Regions from separate parts of the Homo sapiens genome. Here region 2 is linked to region 1. The links come from fine-mapping of genetic effects on gene expression. A gene starts in region 1. The other region holds a variant in brackets. All regions are shown on one strand. Distances are between the middles of the regions.

Evidence for each region. PIP is the estimated chance that this variant, and not a neighbour inherited with it, causes the effect.
Region 2: its variant is the best candidate, but not a certain one, in a credible set for the expression of NAT1 in cerebellar hemisphere (GTEx, PIP 0.78).

The regions. Positions count from the first base shown.
Region 1 is chr8:18,208,776-18,211,693 of GRCh38, forward strand. It overlaps NAT1 (N-acetyltransferase 1), which reads left to right and starts at 1,334. Exons shown (of 3, transcript NM_000662.8): 1 at 1,334-1,405.
Region 2 is chr8:18,497,268-18,500,185 of GRCh38, forward strand. No RefSeq gene overlaps it. Among named protein-coding and RNA genes, the nearest start is that of NAT2, 110 kb to the left of the region's middle. The variant G/C (reference allele first, on the strand shown) is at 1,742.

The DNA.
Region 1 (2,918 bases):
TGGAGGCCACAGAGGGAGCATTTAGACCCCCGCCCCGGGTCAGAGGGAAATCTGCTACCTCAGCAGGAGGAATCCAAGTTCCAGTCCACTTCACAACCACCTAACTAAAGTGGCCTTCCGCCAGACCCTAAAACAAAGATTTGCATTCAGGTAGATTATTTGGAAGATGATTTAAGGACGTACCAGTGCAGGAGTTGTCGCGGGACAGTGAGACCAGGGCAGTTTGACAATCAATAAAGGGTGCATCATTGGCAAGCTACCTGTGAACAAAGGGAGCATAATTCCACTGGACAACACCAGGAGGCAGTGTTATACAAGCCTAAGGGTAATTCCACCTGACCAGGTACAGCACAAAGATATGTGGCCTCCAACTCCCAACATCCTGGGCTGAATAGTGGTCCCAGACCCATAGTTTTCAAGTCTATCTAGCCTGCCTGAGGACATGCCAAGAGAAAGCCTTCGCATAGAGTCCCGAGTTCACGTGGCAGGACGCCAGAGGCATGTTCTAGAACAGTAGGTGCCGAAGGCACAGCACAAGGAAACACTCACTGGTGGAATGTTCTCAAAACAAAGAAATGATAAATGTTTGAAGTGATAGATGTGCTAATTATCATGATTTGATCATTACACAATGTATGTATGTATAAGAACACCACATTGTACCCTGTAAACATGTATATTGGGTCAATAAAGAAACAAAAATTATGTTGTATAGAGAAAAATGCATAAGAAACAGCAAGAGTTGTAGATCAATACCATGAATGTAAATAAAAAACACCAGCATAAACAAAGCCATATGACATATATCACCCTCATACCACACACATGGGGCTCTTTCAGACACATTGCCCAGTGCCTTCAGGTAGAGAGGCCAGTGGGAATGAGGATGATGGATGAAGGGAAGAAAAATTTTTAAAAGAAGTCTAATGGGAACTGATGAAGAAAGTATACCATAAACTTGGAGTGTGATTAAAGCCTTCCATCTTCCTCTTTTGCCTCCTCTAGGTTACCAGTTCTGCTTTTCCTGGACCTGTTCCAAGCTCTCACGTTCCACATCACACATGGGACATCTAGTGTCAGGCTCCCAGAGAGCAGGAACCAGGTGAAATATAAGAGCACAGTCCTCCCAGCCGGTGGCATGGGGATAATCGGACAATACAACTCTCCACCCTTTTTTATGGTAAGATATGAATAAGGGGTCCACAGGAGCAACCTGAGTCCCTGCAACTACATTTCCCAGGGGCCCCTGGGGTAACCCTAATGTGACTCTGGGGGCGGGGCCAGTTGGACATCCAATGAGAGCACTTCCCCTGCAGACTTTGGAAGTGAGAGCACTTCCTCATAGACCTTGGATGTGGGAGGATTGCATTCAGTCTAGTTCCTGGTTGCCGGCTGAAATAACCTGGTAAGTGGAACTCTGTAAGGGGCTTTGAAATTGGGGTTTAATCCTATCTCAACTGTGAGTACAGGAGAGTAGGTTCTACACGATGTCTACATTTCAAGTATAAGGTTGCTCAGAAAGTGTGGCTGGCACATACTTGGAAGCTAATGCTGTCACTACTCCACAGCTTAGTGGTGACAGTTACAGGTCCTTGATTCAAACTGTTGGGTTTACAGTCACAGCCACTTTATAGCTGTGAGAACTTGGCCTAGTCACTTAGTTTCCCTAAAACTCAGTTTCTTTTTCAGTAAAATGGAGCTACGAGTACTGCTTACTTAAAGGACTTGTTGTGAGGATTACATACGTGTATTAAAAGATAACTAATGTGTTTAAGGCAACTTTCTCAACAGGATTTCCCTCTTGGTTACTTGTAACAGTGACGCTCACCCTCCTCTGTCCCCAGTGGTGTGTGTCCCAAAGGACCCAGTTAATCCTACAGGCAGCAAGCTCGTAATAATTCCTGCTCCTCTTGCACTAGCTGATAAAAAGCCCCTAATGATCCTGGATGTCCAGGAAGATTGAATTCTGTTGTTTGCAATGCCTATGGGAATTCCAGAGGGAAGTTTTTGTTTTTTTGAGGCAGAGCCTTGCCCCATTGCCCAGGCTGGAGTGCAGTGGCGTGATCTCAGCTTAGTGCATCCTCCTCCTCCTGAGTTCAAGTGATTCTCCTGCCTCAGCCTCCTGAGTAGCTGTGATTACAGGCACCCGCCACCATGCCTGGCTAATTTTTCTATTTTTAGTAGAGATGGGGTTAATTTTTGTATTTTTAGTAGCGATGGGGTTTCACCGTCTTGGCTAGGCTCATCTCGAACTCCTGACCTCAAGTGATCCACCTGCCTCGGCCTCCCAAAGTGCTGGGATTACAGGCGTGAGCCACCACACTAGGGACGAAGTTTTATTATGGCCGAAGGACACTTACTGGAGAGGGTCTCCAGGAGGTATGAATGACAAAAAAATTTAACTCCTTCACCGTCAGACCGAGAGCATCACCCCCTGAACATGGACTTGCAGAATTCCACAGAAGAGAGGAGACTGGCCTAGACAGACAGCCCCAGGAGCTGAGGGCCCAACAGGCTTTCTACCCTGGATGCTGCTCCCATGCCCTGACATGAGGCCCACTACAATGGTATACTTGTTTGCTCTTTCCTAATTAAGAAACAAACAAACAAAAAATCAGACATACTGTTTGCTCTTGAATGCTTGAAACACAAAACAGGTGACACCACCTTCCTCCTCAAAAGGAACTTTTTAACTGTCAACTTTCTACCTGCACGCTGCCCAGAGACTTATTTTGTCTGGCCCTTGCTGTCTTCAGCAGTAGCAGCTGTTTTTCTTTAGATTTGCTTTTCTGGCCTGGTGCAAGTAACCCCCACCACCTGCCTGGCCCCAGTCGGCATTAAATGGGAGCAGTGAGTGGCCTTCTGGACAAGAACAACTGTTGAATGATGGTCTTTGGGTGCGGCTAGTCCAGCAACCC
Region 2 (2,918 bases), 290 kb after region 1:
ATGCAGAGAAAAGGCAGAGCCCTCTGATTACTTTCACTGACTCTCATGGTCTGAGGGCTGTTGGTAAAGTTCCTATTGAACAGAGAATGCAAAATCCTTTATCGTATGGTCATGCAAATTATTACTTCAATACAGAGCATTCAAACAAGTATCAACAAGGCAAAGCTTCCATGACCAATCACATGGAGGGACCTCCAGGTGTCTGGCTGCAGGGCCCCTTGGGGGAGAGGCAAGCATCCAACACGGACACTGATCCATCAATACAAGCCGGGATCACACCTCCTAGGGAAAGTGAAGGTGCTCTGAGCACATTGAGGAGCAGAAAAGCCTAGTCAGAAAAGACTTCCCATGAAACTGGCATTCAAACACATATCTGAAGGATGAGTTACTTGGGGAAGAGAGGGGATCCTTCAGGAAGGGCACAGAATGAGCAAGACTAAGAGGTGGAGAGGTTGTTAGGAGAATAGCAGGATCAAAAAGTATAGCCGTGAAGCTGGACAGAGAGTTGGGGGAGCCCGGTGGGCTCAGTCAAGAATATTTGGTCTTAGGCCAATCACACCTGTAATCCCAGCACTTTGGGAGGCTGAGACAGGAGGATCACTTGAGCCCAGGAGTTCGAGAGCAGACTGGACAATGTAGTAAGATGCTGTCTCTACAAAAAATAAAAAATTAGCCAGGCCTGATGGCAGGCACTTGTAGTCCCGGCTACTCAAGAGACTGAGACGATGATCACTTGAGCTCAGGAGTTCAGGGCTGCAGTGAGCTATGATAGCACCAATGCAATCCAGCCCAGGAACAGAGCAAGACCTTGTCTCAAAAGAAAAAAATAAAAATAAAAAAATGGTCTTTATTCCAAATGCAGTGGGAAGACTTAGAAGGGGAATCACCATCACGTCAGTTTGAACCATATGAAATTGACATTTTTGCTGGTCAAAAATGACCAACGCTGGCAGTTTTATATGGTTCAACCTAATACAGGTTTGAGCATCCCAAATCCAAAAATCTAAAATGTTCCAAAATACAAAACTTTTTCAGGGCGGACATGATGCTCAAAGGAAATGCACGTTGGAACATTTTGGATTTCAGATTTTCAGATCTGAGATGCTCAGCCAGTAAATACAATGACAATACTCCAAAATCTAAAAGTCCAAAGTCCAAAACACTTCTGGTCCCAAGCATTCTGTTCTATCCTCCATCTGTATTTCGAAAAGAGTCTTCAGCCCGACCCTTCCAAGGTTGACTATTTGTTGTTGGTCTTTTAATTCCAAGGTGATTTTCTCATTTCCTTTCACAGGCAAGTCAAGCCTTGGCACCAACAGAGCAGGGAGTGAGAAGTGTGGGGGCCGAGGCCAGATGGGCCCTGCATCCTACTTTCTGGAGCAGCAGCGACACTGTCATCTTGCTCACCTTTCTTCACAGCCTGCAGTGCCCCACGTGGAGGTGTGGGCTCACCAGGGAGGACTCTCACCTCGGACAGCTGATCCCTGTCCCCTGTGCCCAGGGACATTCTTCTTGCCAGGAGTTGATGAGTTCCCAGTGGAGGTGGAGGACTCCTAAGCTTTTCAAGGGATGGGCTCAAGTAATACAATGCCCCCACACACCCAGCCATCGGCGGCCCCTCATTCTCAGCTTTCAGTTGCTTCTGTGTATGCGAGACCAGAATCCAGGTCACAGCTCAACTGGACATCATGGCACTGACATTGTTCATTTTCATTTTGGCAGCACGCACAGAGCTGTTCAA[G/C]AGAAGGTCACAGTGAGATCATATAAACCAAATTTAGCCATCTGGGTACAAGGAGAGACTTAGGTGATTCGTGTCTGATAAGGAAAACCAGACTTTCACAAAGCATCCTTTAGTGGGAGCCTTTTAGAAACCCCAGAGATGACACCTGTCAAACTTCACAGCACACTTGGGCTTGAGGGGACCGGAGAGTGCACAGGCTCCCTGTGTAGATGAGACCCCGAGGAGATGGTGGTAGTTTTCTCATCTTAGACTAACTCCTACATCCCAGAGTCCCAGAGCACTTTATGTTCTCTGGTCACACGTTGAGGGAGGCAGTTTTAAACTAACTGGAGCAGAGGGGCTGGGGAAGGGCTTAGTTCACTTCCACTCATGGTCTGTGCTCACCTTGAAGTCACACCTGGCACTAAACCATTTTTGTAGAATAGGTGCCCCACTCTGCCACACGTTAATCCTGAAACTAAACAAGAGATTTGGTTGAGTATGGTGGCTCACACCTGCAATCCCAGCACTTTGGGAGGCCAAGGTGAGCAGTTCACCTGAGGTCAGGAGTTGAAGACCAGCCTGGCCAACATGGTGAAACCCCATCTCCACTAAAAATACAAAAATTGTCCAGGCATGGTGGCGGGTACCTGTAATCCCAGCTACTTGGGAGGCTGAGGCAGGAGAATTGCTTGAACCTGGGAGGCGGAGGATGCAGTGAGCCGACGTTGCACTACCACACTCCAGCCTGGGCTACAGAGCAAGACTCCATCTCAAAAACATATAAATAAACAAACAAGAGATTTGGCAGGGGTGGGGTGGAAATCAGGAAATCACACACCGGATAGCAAAATCTCACACAACTTTTCTTTCAATATCTCTCCTCATTTCCTGAAGACCCTTCCACCAAAATCTATCCCATTATTTCTTCCCCCTCTCCCACACAGTTCCTCAGATCACCTCCAACTGCCACCGCCCACTCAGCAAGGCAGAAGCCAGACATGTGGCCTCCTCATCTTCATTCTCCATCCTTGGAAGCCACTTAGTGAGGAATTGAGAGAGATGGGGTGGTATGGGATGGGGACAGGGGGAGTTTGATTTATCAAGTATTCACTCTCCAGTATTGGCCTCTTCTTAGAGGAGAGAATTTAAAATGTCCTATATTACTATTATTTCCCATATTATAATATTATTAGTA